7 linked regions of the Homo sapiens genome follow. The protein of the gene in region 1 interacts with the protein of each later gene in a biochemical or structural test. Each region holds a gene or a part of one and is shown in the gene's direction. Other genes may lie near its edges.

Region 1 (4,012 bases):
ATTAATCACAATACTGTTTTGTACTATAAAGTTCATACTCAAATCTCTTCAGTTGCCCAACAGTGCCCTTCATAGCTAAACTGCAGACTTTATTCAGATTTCACCAGTTTTTCTGCTGTTGTCTTTTTTCTGTTCCAGGATCCAATCCAGGATCCCACAGTGCATTTAGTCACCATGTCCCCTTAATGTCTTCTCATCCATGACAGTTCCTCAGCCTTTCCTGGTTTTTAATGACCTTGACAGATACTTTCAAAGTTTACTGGCCAGTTATTTTGTAGAATATCCCTCAATTTGGGTTTATCTGATGTTTTCTCATGATTAGATGGAAGTTACGTATTTTTCACAAGAACGCCACAGAGGTGACAGGCCTTTCTTAGTGCATCATATCAGTGGGTACATATGCCCATGGCTTTTATTATTGGTGATGCTGTCAGTTAAGGTAATGTCTACCAAGTTTCCCTGCTGTAAAGTTAATATTCCTAAATATCTTGTGAGAGTTACTTTGAGATTATGCAAATACCCTATTTCACCTCAAAATTTTGTCCACTGATTTTAAAAGCATTTGTGGATCTTGCCTATAGCAGTTATTACTACACCATTAAAAATGGTGCTCTCTTGGGCACAGGGAGGGGAGCATCACACACTGGAGTCTGTCGGGGGTCGGGAGGTAGAGGAGGGATAGCATTACAAGAAATACCTAATGTAGATGACGGGTCGATGGATGCAGCAAACCACCATGGCATGTGTGTACCTATGTAACAAACCTGCACGTTCTGCACATGTACCCCACAACTAAAGTATAATTTAAAAAATGGTGTTCTAGTGGTGATTTTCTATTTTCCTCATTCCTTCTACATTAATTAATTGGAATTATTCTATAAAGAAGAGCTTCTCTGTTTATATACCTATTCAATTTTTAATTTGTATTGGTGTAGGCTCCTGGGTATTCATTTTGTTCTGTGGGTTGCAACCCAGTACTACCATCATTTGTTTTGTTGCTCTAATTATTCCAGCCTTGACCATTGGGAGCTCTTTCAGGTTGGCGCCTGTTCTCATTTTCTTTTTTAAAATAATTTTTTTTAACTTTTCATCTTGAAATGAATTCAGACTTTTAAAAATTGCAGAGAAAAGAGTTCAGAAAATTCCTTCCTGCCCCATTCATTTATTTTGTTAGTTAGTTGTATTATTACAGAAGCATGGAATTCTTATTTTATTCTATGGGTTATAATCCATTCCTGTCTACTTATTTTGTTGCTCAAATTGTCTCAAATTAGGCCATTATCTCTGATGCTTTTTAAGTGTACATAAACTGACCTTCAGATTTTTTTCCTTAGAAAACATTGAGAGCCATGCTGGTATATACTCCTTGCCACAGTTTAGCGGAAAGAATCAAACTTCAGAGACTTCTCCAGCCAGTTGTAGACACCATCCTAGTCAAATGTGCAGATGCCAATAGGTAAGGCTTTATTGATGAATCACTTCAAACCCTCTTGTCTTAAAAGTGCCTCGCAGCAAGCCTCACACCTAGTGTGAATATCTGATACATTTTATTAAATGAGTCTTTGAACATTGTCTTTTAATGTGAGATTTAAAATGAAAATGCAGCATAAAGCTCTTAAGGACTGGCGGAAAGAACTACTGGCAAGTAAAAGCCAGGCAAACAAACTGCATGGATCTCCACATTATTGTATTGTGATTTACTCTCTTTAGTAACATTCATAATCTGAAGACCAGTCGATAAGAACAGTAGTTGACATTTATATCTATAAGTTATAATCTCATATTAGAGTATGGGTTACACAGAATAGGAACCAGTAAGATCATTACACCTGCATATGCCTTATTATCAGGATAAAAAATTAACAAATCCATCTCATTTTCAGTGTAGTGGAATTTTACTCTACTTATGACAGTTTTGTCAAAAAATTTTTAGATTTTTTATATTCCTGCAATATCCTTAAAAATTGACAGGGAACAAGAATAACCCTAACTGGAAAGAAAAATATGAAGTAGAGAATTGAGGTACAATGACAGTAAAGATGAGTACAAGCCATGCTTTTTTCAGACCAATGGTTCTCTTTTATTTTCCCCTTCCATAAAATAGGAGGAAAAGATCAATTTTCATTTAATAATCACAGCTACTGTGAACAGTTATTTGGTAGTTCCTATTTCTTTCTATCCCAGCAGATCTTGGTTAGCAAGAAGTGTTGAATCTCCCTTCTGTTGCCTCTTCCATTTCACCCATTTAGAGTTCTCTCAGTACAACCTTTCTCTTCCTCTGCAAGTCATAATGACTTAGTTTGCACAGGATCTCAAAAATTAGGTACCTACCTTTAACGAATTTCTCATATCATGAAGTCTGTCTTTTGCCTCTATTGTTTTCTCTATAGATTGAAAATATTGGATGTTTCCTTGTTGCTTAGAGAAAACATTGTATATCTGTAAAATATTGCAAATTAACAAGTAATTTGCAAAATGCATAGGAAAAATGTCATTTTTAAATATTAGAATAGGTATATTTCTGAGAATTCAGTGTTCTCATGGTATTTGTTATGCTGCTCACTTTTTGAAACTCCAAACTTAGGTTGTTTACCTGGTCACCTGAATGACTGAACATAAGAAATACTGTAGAGAGATTTTATAATATTCAGACCTCATTTTGGCTATGTAAGGAAATGGAGGGTTTTTGGATAGGAAGGTTTTGTTTTTAATTCAAGAGCTTCTTAGTGAAAGTTCAGAAATCAAAATATCAAGGTCCTTGTTTTTTCTTTTAACAAAATATAAGACTTTTATCTGATTTGGTATTTAAATCAGTACTTGCAAAGAGCCATTGTTGAAAATTCTGTGCTTAACATAGGGGATATGTTAAATTTACGAAATTAGACCTAATAAATGAATATTACTACTTATGGTGACATTGTTAATATGATTTTAGTGGTGGAAAAGTAAACACTCCTGAAAACATTATTTCTCCACTTTTTCACAAGGCATTACATTACTCCTCTAATATTGTATAGTGTTTTAGCCAAGATCCAGGATTGATGTTGCTTTTCCTTTGTTTTTAGCCGCACAAGTCAGCTGTCCATATCAACACTGTTGGAACTGTGCAAAGGCCAAGCAGGAGAGTTGGCAGTTGGCAGAGAAATACTAAAAGCTGGTAATAACTTTTCACTTAAAAGGAATATAGCATATTTTATCATGTTCCTGAGCAGCCTTGTCTAATCTCATAATCTCTCATGAGGCAGTTTACAGGATTTTGAAGTAATTTTATAAATTGATTCACTGTGTTACAGTTAGAAATGTGAATTACTCTGAGAGAGAAATTCTTTAAAATAGTTCAGAATATTTTTGTTGGCCTTACACCATTTAATCATGTCTTGTTTTAGATTTTAATATCACTATTTTTTAATCATTTATTTTTACTTTCCTTTTTGTAGGATCCATTGGTATTGGTGGTGTTGATTATGTCTTAAATTGTATTCTTGGAAACCAAACTGAATCAAACAATTGGCAAGAACTTCTTGGCCGCCTTTGTCTTATAGATAGACTGTTGTTGGAATTTCCTGCTGAATTTTATCCTCATATTGTCAGTACTGATGTTTCACAAGCTGAGCCTGTTGAAATCAGGTAATTTTTCTTCTGAAAATGTATTACTTGTATCTTCCTACCCTCCCTACACCCTCCTCAAGAATGACACATTTTAGATTTTTGAAAGACTCAGAGCATGAATAGGTTGCTGATACCTTAATATTTGATTGACATATGAAAACCCAAAGTCTGGGCTCTTTAATTAAAAATTCATAGATACTTTATGCTGAAATGGTTTTTGAAGTATACATGCTGTAAATTACTACCATTTTTTAAGTTTCCATGTATTTTTCAGTAATTGGAACTTATATGGTAATGAATGTTTTTTTCTTTCAGGTATAAGAAGCTGCTGTCCCTCTTAACCTTTGCTTTGCAGTCCATTGATAATTCCCACTCAATGGTTGGCAAACTTTCCAGAAGGATC
Region 2 (4,489 bases), on another chromosome or scaffold:
GGCGTGAGCCACCGTGCCCGGCCAGGACTAACACTTTCTAGCTTTCTACCCTTCAGTCCATAAATTTATTCATTTAGACACCCTGTCTTAACATTTTTTTTTTTAGCCTTTACGTTAACAGAGGCTTCTGGTCCTAATTTCATATCATACCCAGGTTCATTTTCATTATCCATTAAATCTGCTATTTTATGTCTTCTATATTCTTATCTTAAAATACTAAAAGAGAGGACAAAGGATACAACCTTGGGGCACATCCCTAGGGTCTTTCCTCTAGAGTGACTTTTATTCAGTAATGAACTCACTTTGTCTGGCTCTTAAAGCTAAGAAATTATACAACTTTTTTTTTCCATACAACTTTTTTTTGGAGTGCAGGGGCACGATCTCGGCTCACTGCAACCTCCGGCTCCCTGGTTCAGGCGATTCTGCTGCCTCAGCCTCCCGAGTAGCTGGGATTACAGGTATGCGCCACCACACCCAGCTAATTTTTGTATTTTTAGTAGAGACGGGGTTTCACCATATTGGCCAGGATGGTCTCGATCTCCTGACCTCGTGATCCGCCCTCCTCTGTCTCCCAAAGTGCTGGGATTACAGGCATGAGCCACCGCGCCCGGCCTCCTATACAATTTTTTAGTATCTCTCCCTGCCAAGTCAGGTTTCTAGATACCCAGAATTTCACTATCTGAGATTCATTCCTTTGGCTGATGGTTCTGTTCTCCTTTCAAACAATTTTCCTGTCTGACTCTTCAAGCGCATATTAATGCAAATGGACTTAACAGTTCCTTTTCCTGTGGACCAAGTTTGGGGAGGGAGGCAGGACTGATCCTTTACCCTTCAACCTGAACCTTGGTCACAGGCTGACCACTGCGTCCAACCCAGACCAAGCCTTGACCCTGACTAGTCAGTGACCCAGGCCACACCCTAACTCCTGGTCACAACCTGAACCCCTGCTTCAGGTGTGAGAACTGATAGACCGGCGTTGGAATGGAAGGAGGGTGAGGCAAGCTGAGTGGGATTCTCGTGTCCCCAGCCCCGCCCGCGGGCCGCCAGCTTCCCAACCTGCACAGGCCCAGCAGGGCCCCTCCAGGTCTAGGTGAGCAGAGCTCCACCTACAGGTAAAACGCGGCAAGGGGCAGAGAAGGAGCCAAGTGGCGACGTGGTCATGCGCAGAAAGATCCGTCCGGCTCTCTGAGCAGAGGGTAGCGTGTGGGGGCGGGATACCGACGCGGCTCGGCTGCCGATTGGTCAGAAGAGGATAGAAAGGGGCGGGAAGCCGGCGCGGCTCGACTCCCGATTGGCCAGAGGCGGCAGAACGGGGTGGGGCCAAACGACGCGCGTTCTGTGGCGCGCGGCCTGGCGGGCGTGCAACGGCCGTTAGAGGAGCTGAGGGAGGGAACCACCGCTCACCGCAGACGTGGTGGCTGCAGTCAGTCTTCCCGAGTGAGGGATTTCGCCGCCCGCTTTCAGGCCCGTGTAAGTTTTCCTCCTTCGGGAGCCTCAGTCCTAGTGGCCGACCTTGCCTCTCCTCCCATAGCTCCGGCGAAGCCTCAGACGCTCGCGACCTGCCACCGTGAGGGGCCGGGGAGAGCGAAGCGCATGCGCCTCGGCTCCGAAGCCAGTGCCCCGGCATACGCCCTCTCGCGTCCCATTCCCCTCGCTTCCCCCGTTGCCTTGCTTTGCCGTCCGTGGTTCACCCCACGGCAGTCACTTTACCTGCGTGCCAGGCCCTGTGCCGATAGCCAGGGACACAGCGAGCGGCGCATTCCTTGCCCTTGCGGAGCGCACAGCCCTGGGAGTCGACGTTAAGCGGGGTAATCCCTCGGCGCGCAGTGAGGGTAGAGTGGAGAAATCTTACAAAGAGCGCAAAACAGAAGGCGCGGATCTAGTCGGAGAGGTCAGGGAGCCCTCCCCGAGGAGGAGAAGTTTGAGCCGAGATTGGAAGGCTGTGTAGAGAATTAAGGTTGTGGGACGGAAAGCACTTGGCGGGGCCTTACCCCGGTACTTCTCGGCCGGGGCGATTTTGCTTCCCTGGGGACATTGGTCGATGTCTGGAAACACTTTTGATAGTCACAGCTCCAGGGCTTGCTACTGGCATCTAGTGCGAAGAAGCCAGGGATGCTGTTACACAGCCTACTGTGTGTAGGACGCCCCCAACAACAAAGAAAAATCCCCCAAAATGTCAGTAGGGCGGAAGGTGAGGAAGCTTCCTTCAGCGAGAAGGAGCTGGTGCTTTGGTTGAACTGAAAGTTAGTGTGTTCAGGTTTATTTGTTCAACAGTATATTCAACGCTTACTTCACCTCAGTTAATGAGAGCGATCCTTTACACCAGTACATTCCCAACACGTGGCTCAGAGCCAGGCGCATAGTAGGCACGCAGTAAATTTCGGTTGATGAATTGAACACTGGGATAAGTAGGGGGCGGTGGTGATACAAGGACGATGAAGCTAGCCAGGCCTCATTTATTTGCCCTCAAACCTTGTCTGCTTTATAGTGATCTGGTGGTTTTGTATGTCTCACGACTTTTCTTTGTAAAGGCAACTTCTTGTCAAGGATTTGGCTTCTCTTTCACAAGGTTTAATGAATGATCAAGGCGGTGAAAATAGTGTAATGGTGTGAGATCCTTCGTGTGTCTGTGTCAGCTGTCTGTGTATCCCTTCAAATCCTCTCTTGTCTTGATGTGGTTCTCTTAACAGCTGCCAAGCATGATGTTCCACACTTAGATTGTAATTCTTTTTTTTTTTTTTTTTTTTGTGAGACGGAGTTTTGCTCTTGTTGCCCAGGCTGGAGTGCCGTGGCGCGATGTCGGCTCACCGCAACCTCCGCCTCCCAGGTTCAAGCGATTCTCCTGCCTCAGCCTCCCGAGTAGCTGGGATTACAGGCATGCGCCACCATGCACGGATAATTTTGTATTTTTAGTAGAGACGGCGTTTCTCCATGTTGGTCAGGCTGGTCTCAAACTCCCGACCTCAGGTGATCCGCCCGCCTCGGCCTCCCAAAATGCTGGGATTACAGGCGTGAGCCACCACGCCCGGCCACACTTAGATTGTAATTCTTATAGGGGAAAAATACTTACGGCAGTCAAAATCTAATTCTTGGGTAGCAACTTGAGAAATAAAGCCTAGGTGATGACCAAGGACAAAGTGAAGAAATTTTATGAGCTTTTACTGCTCATATAATTGAGGCTTGCAGCTCTAGCTGTCTGAGGCAGAAACTCCAACTTGTGGTGCCATGCTTGATCTCTTTTTTTGTGTTTTGTCACATGTAGAATGCTGACTAGACTACTGTAGCGTTAGAGTACAGTCCTGGCTTTGAAGCCTCTTCCTAGCCATATGACCTTCACTACTGTAAACCTTTATTTTCTCATCCATAAAATGAGGATAATAGTAACTGCCTCATAGGGTTGATGTGAACATGAAACATGAGACATGATACTTAAAAAGTGTTGAGCACAGTGTTTGATAGGTAGTAAGTGCAGAATGCATGTTAAATTTGTTGAATGAGTGACTGTTTCTGTAGTTTAAAGGGCTTTGAAGATGGAAACCAATCCTGTTGGGTGCTTTTTTTTTTTTTCCCCTCTGTCTGCCTCCATTCACTCCCTTTCTAAGCTTTATAACTGGTGTGTTACTTCTTGTACATTCACTTCTCTCATTTTTATCCCAGGAAATTTCTGTCTCCTTCAGTTGTCCCAAAAATTTCCACCAGTAGCTCATCTAATTCTTAAGTCAAGAATGATTTATTTTGTATTGTTTTACTCCTTACGGGGTTTCTTTCTTTCTGTTTTTCTTTTTTGAGATATTTGTTGTCAATGAGGGTCAGACTCTGAAATATTTGAAGGGATTTATTCTGAGCCAAATATGGGTGACCAGTGGCCCCTGACACAGCCCTCAGGTGATCCTGATAACGTGTGCCCTGGTTTTAAACATTTTAGGTAGACATGAGACATCAGTCAAATACATGTAAGATTTACATTGATCTGGAAGGGTAAGACAACTCTTAGTGGGTGGGGGCTTCCAGGTCATAGGTAGATTTCAAAATTTTCTGATTGGCAGTTGGTTGAAAGTTGTTATCAATAGAAAGGAATGTCTGGGTTAAGGTATCCTGGGGATCAACATTTTATTGTACAGATGAAGCCTCCAAATAGTAGGCTTTAGAGAGAATAGATTATAAATGTTTCTTACAGACATCTGTGTTAATGTTAATGCTTTTCCTAAATTCCAGAAGGGAGGAGGGTATAATGAGGGGTGTAGGACTCCACCACCACTACCACCATCATGGCCTTAACAGGTTTTTCAGCTTAACTTTGGAATGCCATTGGCCAAGGGGAGGGATCCATTCAGGTGGTTGGGGATGTCTTAGAATTTTTTTTTTGGCTTATATCACATAACATAAAATTTAATTTTATGTGTGTGCAATTCAGAGGTTTTTAATATATTGGCAAGGTTGTGCAGTCAGTCACCACTATCTAATCTCAGAACATTTTGATCACCCTGAA
Region 3 (4,012 bases), on another chromosome or scaffold:
ACTGTGGCCCACCCCCTTTGTTTTAGAGGAAATTCCAAACATTTTACTTCAAAAAATATGAAAAGACATAAAAACACCGATATTTGAAGTCTTCTTGAAATGTGGCATTTAAGGTCTTGAACTGTTGAGCTTATTCATTGGAAAGTTTATTTTTTTTAAAGAGAGAGGATCTTGCTATGTTTCCTAGGGAGGCCTTGAACTCCTGGGTTGAGGTGATCGTCCTCTCTCCTCAAGTTCCAAGCACCATTGCGCCAGGCTTGTTCCCTTAGATTTGTGCGCTGGGAGTGACAGAGGAGGGCACAGGCCTCAGTGTTACCATCTTGGTCTTCGGTCCTTGTTGTTTGTGTGCTAATTCAGTATTGCCAGATTCAGGATTTTAGGGACTAGTAACATTAGGAAAAGTGAGGGCCAAAATGAAGCTTCATATTTGATAGAGCAGCTTTAAACTACCACACTGAAAAGTCGCTTGGTTCTTTTGGGAGGTGTATGAGGTGTGTTTTTCATGTCCTTTTAGGCAGCCTTCAGTGCCAGCTGGAGTTGTCTTCAAAACATGGTCATTGTTCTTGCCATGGCACTGGCTACCTGAAACTGCTTGCAAGTGGTTTGTTTCTAAGCTCGTTTTCCCATTTTGTGGAATGTGAGATTTTCTTCTACTTTTTAAAAATTGAGAAGGGGTCTCACTCTGTTGCCCAGGCTGGAATGTAGTGGCATGATCACAGTTCGCTGCAGTCTTGACCTCCCAGGCTCAAGCGATTCTCCCATCTCGGCTTCCTGAGTAACTGGGACCACGGGTGGGTGCCACTGTGCCCAGCTAACTTTTTTGTATTGTGTTTAAAGGTGGGATTTTGCCGTGTTGCCCAGGCTGGTCTTGAACTCCTGGGCTTAAGTGATCCACCTTCCTTGCCCACGCAAAGTGTTGGGATTATAGGCGTTAGCCACTGCATCCAGCCTATGAGATTTTTTGAGGAACGCAGATGGTGTCATGTCAGAAGTACCAGTGCTTCTAATGTCATTGTTTTTGTTCTGGGATATAAGTAGCATTTGGAATGTAAGTGTGAAGACTGTCAGTGGAGAGGGGCACACTAGCCCCAGGCCTTGCATCCGGGTGGTCCACTTCGAGGGTGAATGAGCCTGTAGGGTGTTAGGTTGGCGCCTTTCTGGCACATCTGCTTTCTCCCACTTGCCTAGGCCCTGGCATGTTTGTTTTCGTGCTGCAGATATGGTCCTCTAATTGGGTTTTTGTAGTAAGATGGTGCACTTCTGTGGTTGCAATAATCTTGTACTTGGTCGTGTGATTTTAATGTAGCATGTCTGGGCTCTGTGCAGTAGAGTGAAAGAAACGATCTAATGGAATAAAGAAAAAAATTTTTTTTTGCTTTTGAGATGGAGTTTTGCTCGTTGCCCAGGCTTGAGTGCAATGGTGCAATCTGGGCTCACTGCAACTTCTGCCTCCTGGGTTCAAGCGATTCTCCTGCTTCAGTCCCCTGAGTAGCTGGGATCACAGGCATGCGCCACCATGCCTGGCTAATTTTGTATTTTTAGTAGAGACTGGGTTTCTCCGTGTTGGCCAGGCTGCTCTCGAACTCCTGACCTCAGGTGATCGGCCCTTCTCGGCCTCTGAAAGTGCTGGGATTACAGGTATGAGCTACCTCGCGTGGCTAAGTCCCCCCCGCGCCTACTCTTGTTGCCCAGGCTGGAGTGCAATGGCACGATCTTGGCTCACCACAAACTCCGCCTCCCGGGTTCCAGCTATTCTCTTGCCTCAGCCTCCTGAGTAGCTGGGATTACAAGTGCCTGCCACCACGCCTGGCTAATTATTGTATTTTTACAAGAGATGAGGTTTCACCATATTGGCCAGGCTGGTCTCAAACTCCTGACCTCAGGTGATCTGCCCACCTTGGCCTCCCAAAGTGGTGGGATTACAGGTGTGAGCCACCATGCCTGGCCGTAAATACTTAAATATTTCTAATAACTTGTAAAAATTCAACATACTGAATTTTTTTTGAATTGTTTTTCAGGAGAGAGGTACAGAAAGTTTTCCCTGTTGCTTTGTTTTGTTTTAAAGAAAAGGTGGCCATACTCCTTGAAATTCAGTTGTAAAACATCGAAAACTGATTTACAACTGGGGAAATACCTTATCTATTGAATTAAGGGTTTAAAAGGAACTTGGCCTTACCGACTTTTCTTTCAATTTTTAGCTAAGAAACGGGACATCTATGACAAATATGGCAAAGAAGGATTAAATGGTGGAGGAGGAGGTAAGTACGTGAGTTTTTTCTTTGAAGACAAAAGGTCTTGGCAAGTAAGTTGAGTTTGTAAATCACGAGTCTCTTGGTCAGAGTCGATTTTGTATCAGTAAATAGAGATGCAACGTAGAAAGCGAACTAAATTGGGGAGAGGACAGAGAAATTGATGGCATTTAAAAGTCTTTTACGAGACTAGAAGTATATGTTGATGTATTTTTTATAGATAGAAACAATTTGTAACCATACTGCAATATATTGTGAACATATACCCTTAGATCAGCACTTGACGTTATGTCAAAATATCCTAAGGGTTTAAAGAGCAGATTTTCCTGAAAAGCTAAAATAATGACTTTGAAGGGCGTGGACTTTGTCCCCAAAAGTTCCCACGGTCACTGGGCTGTGACCAGCCTCCCCAGGGGTGTTGGGAAATTATTGCTCCAAACCCACTGGGGCCACGCGGCAGCTTCTGTGGCTCCAGGAGGCCAGTCGTCGAAGTGGATGCAGATACTCTTGGTCTTCATAAACCTTCATAACAAATCATAAAAATGGTGTGTAATGTTACATGTTATATGCCGATCACGGATTTAGAGATGGTGAAAAGTAGTGTCGAAGGGGCCACTGCTGCACTCATATGCCATCAGCGCTGGGCACACTCACTCTCTGTCAGTACAGGGCTCATGTTTTGAATTATAGAGAACTTCAGGTTTATGAAATATTTTTGTTTTTATTAGTTCATGATTTGTATAATGTTTTGTCAACAAAGAATTCTTTGCCTACAAAGCACCAAAATTCATAAACTAAAAGCTGTGTTGTATTTGTGCAGGTGGAAGTCATTTTGACAGTCCATTTGAATTTGGCTTCACATTCCGTAACCCAGATGATGTCTTCAGGGAATTTTTTGGTGGAAGGGACCCATTTTCATTTGACTTCTTTGGTAAGTTAATCACGTGGGTTGACTTGGTGTGTGTCCATGACCCAAATGAGGGCTTACTTAGTATGGCCTTTCTGTTGAATTAACATTGTATTTTAGGCTGGGCGCGGTGGCTCATGCCTGTAATCCCAGCACTTTGGGAGCCTGAGGCGGGCAGATCACCTGAGGTTGGGAGTTCAAGACCAGCCTGACCAACATGGAGAAGCCACGTCTCTATTAAAATACAAAATTAGCCGGGCATGGTGGCGCATGCCTGTAATCCCAGCTACTTGGGAGGCTGAGGCAGGAGAATCACTTGAACCCGGGAGGCAGAGGTTGCGGTGAACTGAGATCATGCCATTGCATTGTTGTCTGGGCAACAAGAGTGAAACTCCTGTCTCAAAAAAAAAAAAGTTAACATTGTATTTTGTCACGAAACTTTGTGTTTAAAGCAGCATTGGACTAGCCTGAACAACATGGTGAAACCCTGTCTCAACAACAACAAAAAAAATACTAAAAATTAGCTGAGTGTGGTGGCGTGTGCCTGTGGTCCCAGCTACTTGGGAGGCTGAGGTGGGAGGATTTCCTTGAGCCTGGGAGGTTGAGATTGGGCCACTGCACTCCAGCTTGGGTGACAGAGCAAGGCCCTGTCTCAAAAAAATAAAACAGCACAGTAGCTGTAAAATCTTTTCTCTTCTTCCTCTTTGAAAATTTAAGTTACAGCTTGAAAAATTAAAATAATAAAGGGTTTAATGTATTTTTTTCTTTGTTATGTATGGCCTTAATTAACTTGCTTTTGCCCTCAGAAGAGACAGTGGTAAGGGCATGGGTGCGAGTGTCTTGGAAACGTTGTTTC
Region 4 (4,012 bases), on another chromosome or scaffold:
AACTTGTCAACAATATTTATTACTGTGGTGTTTGCCTGATGATGATTTTCTATTTTCTTCATTCCTTCCTCATTTAGTAATTGGAATTCTATTATGAGGAAGGGATGTCTCTTCCCATTTATGTATTTATTTATCTGTTTATTATTTATATCAGTATGGACTCATGTATATTATTTCAGTCCATGGGTTAAAATGCCATCCTATCATATTTTTTTGTTGCTCAAATTGTTCTAGCTTTGACCTTTAAGAGCCCCTTCAGGTTAACTCCTGTGTTCTTTTTATAAGCCCCATCTCTTTTTGAGCATTTCCCAGTTTGTGGATCCACATGAGGTTCCAGGTTCATCTTGTAGTTTCCTTGCTCCAACTCAGGAATCAACCAGTTCTCCTACGGGCTGAGTGCTGGTTCCTTTCGTTGAAGAGTGGTATTTAGAACCCAAGACCCAGTGATTTTTTTTTAAAAAGCATCGTTTCTTACCTGCGTCATAAAGTAATTGTGTCTCATATTCACATAGGCCCAGATGTAAAGAAGAAAACTGAAGAGGAAGATGTTGAATGTGAAGATGATCTCATTTTAGCATGTCAGCCGGAAAGTTCGCTTAAAGCATTGGATTTTGATATCAGTGAAACTCGGACAGGTATAATGTTACTAACTAATTTCTTTTGAGGAGAGTGGGTTGGTAGTATTATGTATTGTTCTTTGAGATGATAGAGAAATTTACTAATTTTCTCCAGTTTTAGGAAGGAGTTATTAATTTGCAGATAAGATTAATTTTTTCCTGCCTGTTGGCAATTTTGGTGTTTGCCAAGTCTTATCAGAATGGCAAGGAAAAAATGGAAATTTACTCTTTTCCCCCTACTTTCTAGAGTTTTGATTTAGTGATGGAAGAAATTGAAACTAAGAAAGGCTATTAACGTTTTTAGTTAACATCATGTTTTTATATTTCTGTATTGAAATCCTTAGCTGTTTCCTGATGTTTCAGGATTAAATTTTAGTCTGTGCTCACAAATACAAATATATTAACTGAAAGTGCAGCCCTGGAAATTAAAGCTAGTAAAATGCCTTTAAGAGGTTTTTTTTGAGAGACAAGGTCTCGCTGTGTTGCCCAAGTTGACCTTGAACTCCTGGGCTCAAGTGATCCTTCTACCTCAGCCTCCGAGTAGCTGGGACTACAAGCATGCACCATTGTGCCCAGCTTGAGTTCAGTTTTTGTTTGTTTGTTTGTTTTTTTGAGATAGAGTCTTGCTCTGTTGCCCGGGCTGGAGTGCAGTGGCACGATCTCAGTTCAATGCAACCTTGCCTCCCAAGTTCAGTGATTCTCCTGCCTCAGCCTCCTACGTATCTGGGATTACTGGCACATGCCACCATGCCTGTCTAATTTTTGTATTTTTAGTAGAGATTGGGTTTCGCCATGTTGGCCAGGCTGACCTCAAATGACCTACCCACCTCATCCTCCCAGAGTGCTGGGATTATTATAGGCGTGAGCCACCACGCCCGGCCTAGTTTTCGTTTAAACAAATTTGTTTCGTAATCGAGTAGTATTCAACATAAAAATAGGTTGCTGTGATATTATGTTTCATTTTAATATTTTAAAATTTTGAATGTTATTGTTAGTTTCCCTAAGCCTCTTAGGAAAACATGGTAGACCAGGGGGAATATTCATTCTGTTTGAAGGTGAGGGGTTTCCTGTGTCATTACACAGTAGCTTTTAAAAGGTGCTCTGAGTTTTAAGGCTTTTGAATGGTGTCCAGGACTAGTAGAAGGGAACAAAGAGGAAATGAAAGAGTGGGGAGCATCCAGGGCTCTCATTTATGCTCTAGCCTAAGTAGCTCCCATTTTAATCATTTATTTGTGTGTGGATTTGACATATGATATCTTTTGAAAACAGGATCTACCATGAAAAGAAAAAGGATAAAAATCATACTCATAAATAAATACTATCAATTGGTCAGTAGTTCATATTGACCCTAATACTGTATTTGACTTATTACTATGTTAGTACAGCAGTCAAAATCAATTCAGGAAAAGAACAGTATCAGAGGGAAGGTGTAAAACATCTTACATAAACCTACTTTCTTGTCTTGAATAACTTTTCATCCTAAGTGAGGCAGGTAGTAGTAGCCAGGACGATTAAGTCTCTCAACAGAATTGAGGGTTAATTAGTGATTCTTTTTTTTTTTTTTTTTTTTGGAGATGGAGTCTTGCTCTGTTGCCCAGGCTGGAGTTCAATGGCACAAACTCGGCTCACTGCAACCTCCGCCTCCCAGGTTCAAGCAATTTTCCTGCCTCAGCCTCCCGAGTAGCTGGAATTACAGGCACACGCCACCATGCCCAGCTAATTTTTGTATTTTAGTAGAGACGGGGGTTTCACCATGTTGGCCAGGCTGGTCTCAAACTCCTGAACTCAGGTGATCCACTCCCTCGGCCTCCCAAAGGGTTGGGATTGCAGGCGTGAGCCACCACGCCCAGCCATGATCCTTAAACTTGTTTTAAGAGGTATAATAACTGGAAATCATGATGCTCTTTAAGGAATACCAATTGGATGTATTATTGATGTATTTAATTCCATCATATGAAGTAGAAACAGTTTCATTAGCAGAAGGCATTATATTATAGCTACACAATATAAAGAATATAAATTCATAGTTTTCCCAACTCAGAGGTCTAACAACAGTGAAACTGATAAATAAATTTTATATTAGCAGCTATAAATCTTTGGTTTCAGGACTCCTTTACACTCTTAAAAATTATATATTAGATATTGTACCAACTTACACTACTGACTGCAGCAGTTCAAGATTAGTCCCAACCCACTGCTTCCCCTGGGTAACCTTGGCAGGTGGAAATCATTTATAAATCAAGTATTTTAATCTTATGTACAATATAGTTAGAAACTTTTTACTTAAAATTATAATTTAAATTTAATTTTGGTAGATAGCGATTAATGGTTATTTTAGTTGATTTGCCATGTAATTTACATTTCTTTCCCAGCTGCCCCCCCATTTCATTTTTTTCAGTATTTGAATGTAAGGCTTTTTAAAAAATAAAGTTTCTTTTACATTTCTAGAAGTAGAAGTAGAAGAATTACCTCCGATTGATCATGGCATTCCTATTACAGACCGAAGAAGTACTTTTCAGGCACACTTGGCTCCAGTGGTTTGTCCCAAACAGGTAAAGTTCCTTTGTCTAGCTCACTTTGATGATTACTAAAATAATTCAGGTAAATGATTTTGCAATAATCCCCTTGTTTTTACTTTTATGTTTTATTTTCATATAAGATAAAAATTATTTGTTCATTTTTCTACTCCCAAATTACTGTGAATCACGGAAGATTTGTTTTGTTTCTGTTTGTCTCTGCTTTCTTTCTTTTTTTTTGTGATGGTGTCTCACCATGTTGCCCAGGCTGGTCTCAATCTGGACTCAATCAGCCCTCCTGCCTCCAGCCCTCCCAATCCAAGGTATTGGGATTACAGGCATAAGCCACCTAGCCAGGCCTGTCACTGCTTTCAAAATTGTATCTAAACTCTGATTAGGGGTTAACCCTCTAATGAATCTTTAAATAAGAAATACCCATTGTGTTATTAGAGAAAATTATGATGCTTAATACCTTGTCAAAAAGAATTATTTGTCCTGTCGAATGGGAGTTCTGTGAAACTAAGTCCATTCCTCTGTTATTATTCAACAAAGGGGACAGTGGACAGACTGGCTAAACCAAGTCCTCCCTACCTGACTTACTTTCCTTTGTGCTTCTTGATCTTAGGTGACCATATTTCCACCCAGGGATATAAATGGGAGAGGTTTCAGCCATAAACTATTCCTAGGTCTTTGCCTTTCTCATTCTCCTTTCAGCAGAATCCTTTTCTTCTTCCTTGCTTCTATAATGTAGCTCAGCTTACATTATTGATGTACGAGGCAATTTCAATACTACCTGTAAAGTTACATTTTTAAAAATGTCTCATTTACTGCAGGTTTTAGGCATGAGTCTCTTCCTTTGGTCTTTGCAGCTACCCTACT
Region 5 (4,012 bases), on another chromosome or scaffold:
GAAGATGAGCATTTTTTCATATGTTTCTTCATCATTCTGTTTTCTTTTTCTATAAATTGCCTGCTCATTACTTTTATTATTCTGTTGGGTTACTTTTTAAAAATTGATGGCAGGGTGCAGTGACTCACACCTGCAATCCAAACACTTGGTGGATTGCTTGATCTCAGGAGTTCGAGATCAGTCAGGGCAACATGATGAAACCCCATCTCTACAAAAAATACAAAAATTAGCTGAGCATGGTGGCGCGCACCTGTAGTCCGAGCTACTCGGGAGATGGAGGTGGGAGGATGGCTTGAGCTAGGGAGGTTGAGGCTGCAGTGAGCCATGATTGCATCACTGCACTCCAGCCTGGGTGACAGAGCCAGATCCTGTCTCCCGAACAAAACAAAAAAACGAAACCAAAAACCAACACCAAAAAATAAAACAAAATTGATTTTTAGAGTTCCAGATACATTTCTTACTAATCTTTAGTTGGGTATGTATGTTACAAATCTGTATTCTAGTTCTGTTTGTTTCTGCTGTCTTTTATTGTAAAGAAAATGTGGGTTTTCACTTAGTGATATTTGTCATTCTCCCTTAATTTTATTTTTCTTAAGAAAGGCTTCAGGGCTGAGTGTGGTGGCTCACACCTGTAGTAAAGAAAAGAAACCCTTCTCCACCCTGAGGTTATACAGATATTTTCATATTTTCTTCTGCAAGTTTTACTAAACTTTTGATTTTCACATTTAGGTCTTTGATCCACCAGGAATTAATTTTTGTATAAGGTCTGCGGAGGAATTGAATTGGATAACCAGTTGACAATAGACAATAATCAATTGTCTAATCACTGTGGATTGAATTGTCTGTTTTTTCCCCACTGTTTTATAATTGTCTTAGCTATTTTGGGCATTTCAAATGGATTATATGACAGATTGGTTAAAATCATTATACAAGGGAATTTCTTGTAGGTTTTTAGGATGTAAGAGAAAAGACATTATAATTTTATTTTTGTTTCACATCAGCTGATATTGATGGTTTAAAATATATTTTTATTCCTTAATAACATTTAATGATAAGCTTATGTATAATTTGTAAGTAAGTCAAGAAGAGAATGATTTTCTGCCAGTGAATATACAACATAATACTATAGCAGTGTAGTTAGGTGGATGTGTCTCTAGCATGGCTTTTGTTTAAATAAAGGACCTCAGAGGTGTTGCGTGTAATAGGCCTTGTGGCTGGGCGCGGTGGCTCATGCCTATAATCCCAGCACTTTGGGAGGTCGAGGTGGGCGGATTACAAGGTCAGGAGTTCGAGACCAGCCTGACCAACATGGTGACACCCCATCTTTACTAAAAATACAAAAATTAGCCGGACATGTGGTGCATGCCTGTAGTCCCAGCTACTCGGGAGGCTGAGGCAGGAGAATCACTTGAACCCGGGAGGCAGAGGTTGCAGTGAGCCAAGATCGCGCCACTGCACTCCAGCCCGGACGACAGAGCGAGACTCCATCTCAAAAGAAAAAAAAAATAGGCCTTGTATATAAGTATGTAGGGTAGGATATCAAACTCTGGTTACTTGACAAGTGATGGTTCTAACCACCTATTACCCAGGTATCAAAATGAAACTTAAGGATATATCATTTCTTTATCTCTTGTTATTTTTTTCCTCCTTGGTTGTCTATTGTCCTTTAATCTGACCACTTTTCTTCTCCCCCTTCCTTGATTTTTCATTTTGTCTTAAGTTAAAAAGCTTTTATTTTATTTTATTTTTTCTTCTTTTTTGAGACACAGCCTCACTCAGTCGCCCAGGCTGAAGTGCAGTGGTACAATCTCAGCTCACTGCAGCCTCTGTCTCCTGGGTTCAAGCAATTCTCCTACCTCAGCCTCCTGAGTAGCTGGGATTACAGGCACCCACCACCATGCCTGGCTAATTTTTAATTATTTATTTATTTATTTTTTTCTAGAAATGAGGTTTCACCATGTTGTCCAGGCTGGTCTTGGACTCCTGACCTCAAGTGATTCACCTGCCTCGGCCTCCCAAAGTGCTGGGATTATAGGAGTGAGCCACCATGCCTGGCCTAAGTTACAAAGTCTTTAAAAGTGTTTTTGCTTACAGTCTTTTTCCTGTTATAAAAATATCAGCTAATTGGCAATATTTGTCCAACACCATGGGTGAGAAGGATATTAGTTCCTGAGGCATTTTGGTATTGTTGAAACATTCTTTTCCCTCATCCTTTGTTTTTTAGGATTAAGTTTCACATTGACTTATTGGCATCTGCTATCTTTTTTGGTGTAGTAAGTGTTGCTCCCAGCTTTTAGACTTCCTTTAGCGTTATTTTCTTAATGGGTCTGTGGCTGCTATGCTTAAAGGACAAGCACCTCTCTGTCCCTATAGCACCTTGTGGAACATTTACAGTTCTTCACCATGGAGACCTGTTATGGCGATCTCTGTTGCATTCAGGGAGGCCTTTCTTTAGTTTCCTCCAGTTAAGAAATGTTGAAAATGAAGTGTCTTGTGAAGTAGTTCCAGTTCTTACTGACTTTTAATGCAAGCTCAGAACTGTGTTTAATCTCATATTTAAAAAAAGCATGAAGGGAAATGATGAAGGATTTAAAAAATTTTATTATGTACAGTCTCCCTCATATTTAGTGTAATTTTTAAATGATAGCAGTTGGATGAAAAATCTGTTATTCAGTGAAATTGTTATTGTATCTGAAAACTCGCAAACTATTTTCTTGGTCGGTAAACGTACCCTTAGTAAGCACTTGCTTATTTTCATTTGCAATATGAGAATTGTAGTGACTCAGAATTTTACTTCTCATTTGTACTAAAAGTTTTTTTTATTCTTATCTGGAGCAGCAGCTTTTACTTTCATTTGTCATGGGATGAATTATCTTAACCTTCTCTTCTAAAAAAAGATCTGCTTAAAGAAATCTAGCATGTGCAGTGTTTTGGTTTGTCCCCAGCAGTACTAAGTCCTTGAGGTGGAGGGTTGAAGGGGAAGAACTTTTTTTTTTTCAAACATTAATACCTTATTAGGTTCTCTTAAGTTACCTGATAATGAATAAACCTTTATATTTAATGGAGAGATTGAACCTAAGAAGGTCATTGTGGCAGATATCTGGGAATGGCCATTGTCCCCTGAAAATTATTGACATTCTGAAGTGGCCACCTGCTTATAGGTGTTAAGAATAGGCTGTGTATATATGTATGTAGGGTAGGATATCAAACTCTGGTTACTTGACAACTATCAGTTCTAACCATCTATCACCCAGATATCAAAATAAAACTTAAGGATATATCATTTCTTTATCTCTTGTTATTTTTTTCCTCCTTGGTTGTTTTTTGTCTCTGAATCTGACCACTCCTCTTCTTCCCCTGCCTTGATTTTTCATTTTGTCATATTACTCCAGTTTTATGTCAGAAATTTGTCACTACATGATGATGTAGTCTTAAAATTTTTAGCTATTCTAGTGGGTATGTCATTGTGGGCTTTGTCGTTGTTGTTGTTGTTTTTGAGACAGAGCCTTGCTCTGCCCCCCAGCCTGGAATGCAGTGGCGTGATCTGGGCTCACTGCACCCTCCACCTCCCAGGTTCAATCTGGGACTACAGATGTGCACCACCATGCCTGGCTAGTTTTTGTATTTTCAGTAGAGACAGAGTTTCGCTGTGTTGGCCAGGCTGGTCTGCAACTCCTGGCCTTATGTAATCCGCCCGCCTTGACCTCCCGCAGTGCTGGAGTTACAGGCATAAGCCACTGTGCCCGGCCTTCATTGTAGTTTTAATGTGCATTTACTTGATAACTCTTGATTTTGGGCACGTTTAAATATATTTATTTGCTAAATGAATGTTCTCTTTTTCAAAGTACTACTTGTTTAAATATTTTGTCCATTTTTCTTTTCACTTAATTTTCACAACTCTTTTAAGCACGGCAGCTATTTTAATCTCCATTTGACAAATGAGAACATGGATTTGGGTTTGAGTCAGAATGGAGGTGAACTACTCCAAAGCTTATAAGCTAGTAAGAAAGCT
Region 6 (4,012 bases), on another chromosome or scaffold:
GCGTATATATATATATATATGTATATATTTGTGGTAAAATACACATAAAAAATTTCCCATTAAAGACATTTAATAATATTTACAATGTTGTGTAACCATCACCACTATGTAGTTCCAGAACATTTTCATTACCCCCCCAAAAAATCCTATACCTATTACACAGCCACTCCCTATTCTCCCCTTCCCTCGGCTCTTGGCAATCACTAATTTGTGTTAGTCAAGCAGAAATTATGGATTTGCTGATTTCATTGGAATCATAAAATATGTGGCCTTTTGTGTCTGGCTAGTTTCACTTAGCATAATGTTTTCAAGGTTCACCCATACCGTAGCATATATCAATACTTATTCCTTTTTATGGCTGAATAATATTCTCATTTGGCTGTACCACATTTTGTTTAACCATGCATCAGTTGATGGACATCTGCATTGTTTCTACCTTTTGGCTGTTGTGAATAGTGCTGCTATGAACATTGTCTACAAGTTTTCGTTTGAACACCTGTTTTCCATTCTTTTGGGTCTATATCCAGTAGTGGAATTGGCAGGTCCTATGGCAATTCCATGTTTTACTTATTGAGGAACTGCTTTTCCACAGTGGTGATGCCATTTTGTATTCCCACCTGCAGTGTGGGAGGATTCTAATTTCTCCACATCCCTGCCAACACTTGTTATAGGATGTATTTTTAGCCATATCTACCCAGCAAGGGTATTATATTCCATTGCTCAGATGCAGGAACTGATGTATGTTACAACAAACCTGCAGGGAAGGTATTGTCATCCCCATTTTACAGATGACAAAACAAAGAGGTTCAGAGAGGTTAAGTGACTTGCCCACTAGATCTACCACTAGATTTGAACCCAGGTCTCTCTGCTTCCCAGAACCATGACCCCTTCCATTATACCTCATGGCCTCTCCTTTGATATTTTCACCGCACGAGGAAGGGTGGAGAGAGACTTGAGGAGGGTGGTGGGTGGGGTGGGGCATGTTTCCCACCAGCCCTGCCCTGTCCGATCAGTGAGACCCGCCTGGTAGAGGTGCTGGAGGGTGTGTGCAGCAAGTCAGACTTCGAGTGCCACCGCCTGCTGGAGCTGAGTGAGGAGCTGGTGGAGAGCTGGTGGTTTCACAAGTGAGTGGCAAAGGGCCTTCCCTGGAAGTGGGTCACAGGTGAGGCCTGGTGATAAGGCCTGATTTGGCCGAGAAGCAGGGGGGTGCATGCTGGGGCCCATGTCCTGGTTGTGCTCCTTCCAAACCCAGGTCTGCTAAGAACTTGCCGGGGGACTTGCGCTCCACTTTGAGCCTCAGTTTACCCTTCTGCCAAATGGGGAAAGGGCATTGGTCAGATGGCCTTTTGGGTCTTATGTCCAAGCTGGGTTGAATCACAGATTCAGGCATGGGGGAATGGGAACAGCACTTATGACACTATCTCAGCACCTCCTCCCCACCTCCCTCCACCCTGCCCCTGCCTCAGGCAGCAGGAGGCCCCGGACCTCTTCCAGTGGCTGTGCTCAGATTCCCTGAAGCTCTGCTGCCCCGCAGGCACCTTCGGGCCCTCCTGCCTTCGTGAGTTTTTAAGTTGCTCTTGGGGATGGGAGGGGACCACCGAGTCCAGGGATCCAGTCCTGGCTCTGTCCCTAGTTCGCTGTGTGAACTCAGGCTACTCAGATAAACTTCTCTGGACCTCAGTTCTTGCCTGCCTGACAGGGCTGGGGAGATGGGCAAATCAGTGGGGAAAGGCTTGGAGAAAGCACAGGGGCTAGACTGAGTCATATGCAGTATAGTTATCATCATGTACTAAAGAAATGATAGACTTCCCAGCCCCTTCATTTCCCATGCCAGATCGGACTATGGTACCTTCCTGGGGAGGGGCGGGTGCTGACCTGGAGCCTCCATGATCGCCATCCATCCTCACACACAGTCCTGGCACAAGAGCTGAACTTACTACCAGCCTCTTTTAGAGCAGTCTTTCCTGAAGCTACAGATAAAGAGCTAGCTACAAAGATGGCAAATTCAGTCTTTGTAAAAGAAAATATTGGCTGGGCGCGGTGGCTCACACCTGTAATCCCAACACTTTGGGAGGCTGCGGTGGGTGGATCATGAGGTCAGGAGATCGAGACCATCGTGGCTATCATGGTGAAACACCGTCTCTACTAAAAAATACAAAAAATTAGCCGGGCATGGTGGCGGGCGCCTCTAGTCCCAGCTACTCTGGAGGCTGAGGCAGAAGAATGGCATGAACCCGGCAGGCGGAGCTTGCAGTGAGCCGAGATCATGCCACTGCACTCCAGCCTGGGCGACAGAGCGAGACTCTGTCTCAAAAAAAAAAAAGAAAATATTTGGTCCAGTGGCTCGTACCTGTAAACCCAGCACTTTGGGAGGCTGAGGCAGGAGGATCACTTGAGGCCAGGAGTTTGAGAGACCAGCCTGGGTAGTAGAGCAAGACCCTGTCTCTTAAAAAAAAAATAGTGGGGCATGGTAGTGCAGCCTGTTGTTCCCCTAGGCTGAGGTGGGAGGATTGCTTGAGCCCAGGAGTTCGAAGCTGCAGTGAGCTATGATCATGTCATTGCCTGGGAAACAGAGCGAGACCCTGTCACTAAAAATAAATAAATAAATAAATAAATAAATAAATAAATAAATAAATAAAAGGTCTGTAAAATCTAATTGTTCCACAAGAGGAAATTGGTTAAGTAAATGTCAGTTTTATGACAAAATATTATGTCATTAAAATTAATTTTCTTCTCCAAAAATGTTTACTGATATGCAGAGCAGAAAATATTATCTTGTTTTTTTTGTTTTTTTGTCTTTTTTATTGATCATTCTTGGGTGTTTCTCCCAGAGGGGGATTTGGCAGGGTCATAGGACAATAGTGGAGGGAAGGTCAGCAGATAAACAAGTGAACAAAGGTCTCTGGTTTTCCTAGGCAGAGGACCCTGCGGCCTTCCGCAGTGTTTGTGTCCCTGGGTACTTGAGATCAAGGAGTGGTGATGACTCTCAACCAGCATGCTGCCTTCAAGCATCTGTTTAACAAAGCACATCTTGCACCGCCCTTAATCCATTTAACCCTGAGTGGACACAGCACATGTTTCAGAGAGCACAGGGTTGGGGATAAGGTCATAGATCAACAGGATCCCAAGGCAGAAGAATTTTTCTTAGTACAGAACAAAATGAAAAGTCTCCCGTGTCTACTTCTTTCTACACAGACACAGCAACCATCCGATTTCTCAGTGTTTTCCCCACCTTTCCCCCTTTTCTATTCCACAAAACCGCCATTGTCATCCTGGCCCGTTCTCAATGAGCTGTTGGGTACACCTCCCAGACGGGGTGGTGGCCGGGCAGAGGGGCTCCTCACTTCCCAGTAGGGGCAGCCGGGCAGAGGCGCCCCTCACCTCCCGGACGGGGCGGCTGGCCGGGCGGGGGGCTGACCCCCTCACCTCCCTCCCGGACGGGCTGGCTGCCCGGCGGAGACACTTCTCACTTCCCAGACGGGGCGGCTGCCGGGCGGAGGGGCTCCTCACTTCTCAGACAGGGCGGCCGGGCAGAGACGCTCCTCACCTCCCAGACGGGGTCGCGGCCGGGCAGAGACGCTCCTCACTTCCTAGATGGGATGGCGGCCGGGCAGAGACGCTCCTCACTTTCCAGACTGGGCAGCCTGGCAGAGAGGCTCCTCATATCCCAGACGATGGGCCGCCAGGCAGAGACGCTCCTCACTTCCCAGACGGGGTGGTGGCCGGGCAGAGGCTGCAATCTCGGCACTTTGGGAGGCCAAGGCAGGCGGCTGGGAGGTGGAGGTTGTAGCGAGCCGAGATCACGCCACTGCACTCCAGCCTGGGCACCATTGAGCACTGAGTGAACGAGACTCCGTCTGCAATCCCGGCACCTCGGGAGGCCGAGGCTGGCGGATCACTCGCGTTTAGGAGCTGGAGACCGGCCCGGCCAACACAGCGAAACCCCGTCTCCACCAAAAAAATACGAAAACCAGTCAGGCGTGGTGGCGCGCGCCTGCAATCGCAGGCACTC
Region 7 (4,012 bases), on another chromosome or scaffold:
AAGTTAATAGAGATATAATAAATACAAGTTTTCTGGAACTCTTTTCTTTTTTTTCCTATGCCATTTAATACCAACTAGGTTTATTACTTAAATATTATTTGAAAAGCCCCAGCTATGTATAAATACACCCTAGGTGTGCATTTATAAATAAGTCAACAGAAATAAACAAAATGTACATATGTATACATATAAATTCCATATGGCATGTGGGGCTATATTAGTTTGAACCATATATGATTGCCATTGTAGGTCAAAACAGACTATATTTATAGCAAAACTGTTTAGACTGTAGCCATGTGGAGCCAAGTTTCAGAAACCTGTTGAGTTTCATATCCCGGGAAGCCACTTTCTAGTGTATATGGGAGCAAGATTGCCTAAAATGTGTTAACACATGCTGCTCATGGTCTAGAGGATGATTCTAGGTGATACACAGGTCAACATTTTTTGTTTCAGTAGCCAGCTATTTCACAGGTATTATTGCTTACAATTGGAAAAAATTTTTTTGAGTTAACATTAAAGATGTTAGTTGAATATGGCAAAAAATGTGAAAATGATATGTAATGGATTGAAGTTTGGGAAACATTAGAAGACAGAGAAGAAAGAGAGAAGAAAAAGAGGAAAGGATCAGACAAATAAAGATAATGATAACTTCATTAAGATAAAATGAAATCATAAAGGCAAAAAATCCATATACTGGAAACATAAAAATTACCTTAGCCGTTGTTGCGCAGGTTGCAGCTCTGACCTGAGACATTTTGGGAGGCACTTTTCAGGGGCACTCCGCATTCTGAAAATGTAGAGAATTTTCCAAATAAGAAAATTTGCCTTAACGAGAATTCAGGGAAAGCCACTGACAAGCTACAGACTTCCAGCTAAGTCATGTTAGTTAGGATGATGCTTGGGAGCATCAGTGATGCACTTTCAACATCAATTAGAAATCTGGGAGGCAAATGGAATGCTCGATAGTATTCATATCTTGTTTAGTTTGGCAAAAGAATGAAAGTTTCAATATTTTGTTGAAAAATCGTTTCATAATTTGGAAAGTGCCTAGCACAATGCCTGGCTCAAAGTGAGTTCTCAATGGCTGATCACTACCACTATTGTAATTTATGTCATTAATCTTCCTGGTTCTTCCCAGCGTGGGATCAGAAGGGGGAGAGAATACTTGGGCACATGGAAATAGAAGGATGTATGAGAACCAGGCTGGTCATGTAGCTTGATGCCTTTTCTTCCTGTCCTGGGCAAGGAATGGCTACAAGAGGTTACTATCAAGAGTTCCAAAGTAAGGAGAGATGGACTCCTGCCATCTGTAAAGAACTGGATATTTTGAATGTTTAATAAAACTCTTTTTAAGATAAACTTTTATATTGACTGCAAAAAATAAAAAGGAAGCTGCATAAGGCTTGATAGGGCATAATTTTTTTCACTATTCTATGGGTAAAGCCATAATAAAATAAACAACTTGATTATATTGACAAAAAGTGTTTATAAAGATATATTTAATGCCATGAAAAAATTTCAGTAGATAACATTAAGAAAAAAACATAAGAGAGAGCAGCTTTAACATTATATATAGTTTGTGCTTAATTGTATATGCACATACATTATAAACTACTAAGCAAAAAAAAAAAACAGTTAAGCCTATATGATCTTAAGAGGGAAGCATTTTGTCATTCAAGCAGCTGGTAATGGAAAATAAATTAATGTTAATGTTGAAAAAAGAAGCTTGTAGTACTTATATAATTAAACTTTATTTTACTTCATTTTTCAGACATTAGTAAATTTACTTGGTGCCCGAGATACTAATGTTCTATTGGGTTCCCTTCTGGCTCTGGCTAGTTTAGCAGAAAGGTAAGTAGTGTATTCTAATATACTTTCCAGTTCTGCTACTATAGCAATTTAGGTGGTAAGGATGCAAAATAATCAGTTACTTTGTCAACTACTTAATACAATTTCTTGATAAATAAGTGTGAAATAACATGTTGAAGAGAATCCTGGATAGAAGGCATTATTTAAAAATTTAAACTGGAAAGGCAAATTGCAGTTTAAAATTTTCTTTTTATTTCCTGACTGGAAATATTTAGTCTTTTCATCTAACCCTCAGTTACTTCTAATTTCAAAATTACCATAATATTTCTTTGGCAGTTGAATCTTTCTGACCATCTTAATTCATTCTTACCTGTGAATTTTAACATACAGAACGTTTTCAAACATCTGTGGGCTTTGAAAAATTTTCAAGAAGATCTTTCCTCTTATAAATGTCATGATTATTTTAAATGTTTTTATGACAATAAGTGGACCATTGCTTTTCTGTGAATAACATATGATTCCTTTTGTTTTTTGATCTCTTCTCCCAAGATAATATTGGAGCTAGGATATTAAATAAATAAATTTATATGGTTAGGCTTTGTGTCCCCAACCAAATCTCATCTTGAATTGTAATCCCTGTAATCCCCATAATTCCCTCATGTCAAGGGAGAGACCAGGTGGAGGTCATTGAATCATGGGGCCATTTCCTCCATGCTGTTCTCATGATAGTGAGTGAGTTCTCATGAGATCTGATGGTTTTATAAGGGGCTCTTCCCCCTTGGCTCGGCACTTATCCTTCCTGCTGCCTTGTGAAGAAGGTGCCTTGCTTCTCCTTTATCTTCCACCATGACTGTAAGTTTCCTGAGGCCTCCCTAGCCATGCTGAACTGTGAGTCAAGTAAACCTCTTTCCTTTATAAATCACCCAGTCTCAGGCAGTTCTTTATACCAGTTTGAAAAAGGACTAATACATGGATCTAGCAAAATATGCTTTTAGTAATTGCTAATATTTTTCAATTTATAGTCAAGAATGTAGGGAGAAGATAAGTGAACTCAACATTGTAGAAAATCTGTTGATGATTTTACATGAATATGACTTGCTTTCTAAAAGGTAGGATTGCTAACAGTAGAAAAAGACAATGCAGTGCCTTTATTTGACAGATACACTTGTTATTATTTTTATTACGTCATGTTATTTACATTGTAACTGAATATGATGAGTCAGCTTGGCATTTATTTTCTGTTTAAGTTTATATAAAGAAAATAGAGCAAAGAAGTATATCCATTTATGTTTAGTCCTGCATTACTTCTAGATCTGGGCATAGAAGCTGATGAAATAAATTTTTGTGATATCATTTTTAATGTTTTGTTTATTGCATTTATTTATATCCTGCCTTTTTAGGGAAAGAAACTCTGAGGTGGCTCTAGTTTTAGTAATTTCAAATTGTATATTACAATAAGTGATTAGGTTGCTAAAATCCATTTGCATGAAGGCAAGTAAAATAAGATAGCAACTGACTTGTTTTGTGATCACCTGCTATGATAACTCAAAATCTAGAGTAAAATGGATTCATTTTTACTTGAACTGCATATTGTTCTAATAACTATCCAGATAGTTATTAGATTGTACTTAAATAGAGTTGCAATCTATATCATTTGATATTTAGTTGAGTAATTTTCTAAAGAGGCAAAATAGATAAAAAGAAATCTCCAGCAATGGAGCCCTGACACTTAACTCATAGTAAATCCTTTTGGATTCTTCTTCAAAACTCTCATAAAAGAGCATTAAATATAGATAATACTTATAGACTTGGTTATCTGAACAAACAAGGTTCCAAGCTTGGTACCAGGTGTTGAAAACCAAAGATGAATAAGTTATAAATATGTAGTGTAGAAGAGGGTCAAACAGTGCTATAACTGATACGGTAGACAGATGCACAGGGTACTCTGGGAACATGGAGCAGAGACTTCCCAATTAGAATGTGGAGTCATGCAAAGTTTCCTGGAGGAAAGAGAAGATATCTAGGCAGAGAGAGAGAGACAACATAAAAACAGTATGTGCTTGGACATGGAGGCATGAAATTGGGTGTGTTAGAGGAATGTGATGGTTGGGCACAGCAGGACCATAAGAACAAAAGTGCCAGAGAACTAGAACAGATAGTTAATGATAAATTTAAAATGTAGCTAACTTTGATCAGTGTTTTC

Evidence for each region.
Region 2: of the proteins of MAP3K1 (region 1) and CEP85, one has a biochemical effect on the other in vitro, tested with the Homo sapiens proteins (one large-scale study listed by BioGRID).
Region 3: of the proteins of MAP3K1 (region 1) and DNAJB6, one has a biochemical effect on the other in vitro, tested with the Homo sapiens proteins (one large-scale study listed by BioGRID).
Region 4: of the proteins of MAP3K1 (region 1) and IMPACT, one has a biochemical effect on the other in vitro, tested with the Homo sapiens proteins (one large-scale study listed by BioGRID).
Region 5: of the proteins of MAP3K1 (region 1) and STAM2, one has a biochemical effect on the other in vitro, tested with the Homo sapiens proteins (one large-scale study listed by BioGRID).
Region 6: of the proteins of MAP3K1 (region 1) and CRELD1, one has a biochemical effect on the other in vitro, tested with the Homo sapiens proteins (one large-scale study listed by BioGRID).
Region 7: of the proteins of MAP3K1 (region 1) and NEK10, one has a biochemical effect on the other in vitro, tested with the Homo sapiens proteins (one large-scale study listed by BioGRID).

The regions. Positions count from the first base shown.
Region 1 is NC_000005.10:56,877,646-56,881,657, forward strand, and holds part of MAP3K1 (mitogen-activated protein kinase kinase kinase 1), read left to right. Parts: intron 1-1,334; coding exon 1,335-1,456; intron 1,457-3,065; coding exon 3,066-3,157; intron 3,158-3,437; coding exon 3,438-3,627; intron 3,628-3,924; coding exon 3,925-4,012. UniProt on the Homo sapiens protein: Component of a protein kinase signal transduction cascade. Activates the ERK and JNK kinase pathways by phosphorylation of MAP2K1 and MAP2K4. May phosphorylate the MAPK8/JNK1 kinase.
Region 2 is NC_000001.11:26,232,841-26,237,329, forward strand, and holds the start of CEP85 (centrosomal protein of 85 kDa), read left to right. Parts: upstream 1-1,359; 5' UTR 1,360-1,470; exon of another isoform or gene 1,471-1,808; intron 1,809-4,489. UniProt on the Homo sapiens protein: Acts as a regulator of centriole duplication through a direct interaction with STIL, a key factor involved in the early steps of centriole formation.
Region 3 is NC_000007.14:157,364,304-157,368,315, forward strand, and holds part of DNAJB6 (dnaJ homolog subfamily B member 6), read left to right. Parts: intron 1-2,198; coding exon 2,199-2,258; intron 2,259-3,069; coding exon 3,070-3,180; intron 3,181-4,012. UniProt on the Homo sapiens protein: Has a stimulatory effect on the ATPase activity of HSP70 in a dose-dependent and time-dependent manner and hence acts as a co-chaperone of HSP70. Plays an indispensable role in the organization of KRT8/KRT18 filaments.
Region 4 is NC_000018.10:24,439,984-24,443,995, forward strand, and holds part of IMPACT (protein IMPACT), read left to right. Parts: intron 1-512; coding exon 513-635; intron 636-3,065; coding exon 3,066-3,169; intron 3,170-4,012. UniProt on the Homo sapiens protein: Translational regulator that ensures constant high levels of translation upon a variety of stress conditions, such as amino acid starvation, UV-C irradiation, proteasome inhibitor treatment and glucose deprivation.
Region 5 is NC_000002.12:152,165,658-152,169,669, reverse strand, and holds part of STAM2 (signal transducing adapter molecule 2), read left to right. Parts: intron 1-4,012.
Region 6 is NC_000003.12:9,936,549-9,940,560, forward strand, and holds part of CRELD1 (protein disulfide isomerase CRELD1 isoform 2 precursor), read left to right. Parts: intron 1-1,013; coding exon 1,014-1,124; intron 1,125-1,466; coding exon 1,467-1,558; intron 1,559-4,012. UniProt on the Homo sapiens protein: Protein disulfide isomerase. Promotes the localization of acetylcholine receptors (AChRs) to the plasma membrane.
Region 7 is NC_000003.12:27,306,765-27,310,776, reverse strand, and holds part of NEK10 (serine/threonine-protein kinase Nek10), read left to right. Parts: intron 1-1,771; coding exon 1,772-1,851; intron 1,852-2,831; coding exon 2,832-2,918; intron 2,919-4,012. UniProt on the Homo sapiens protein: Plays a role in the cellular response to UV irradiation. Mediates G2/M cell cycle arrest, MEK autoactivation and ERK1/2-signaling pathway activation in response to UV irradiation.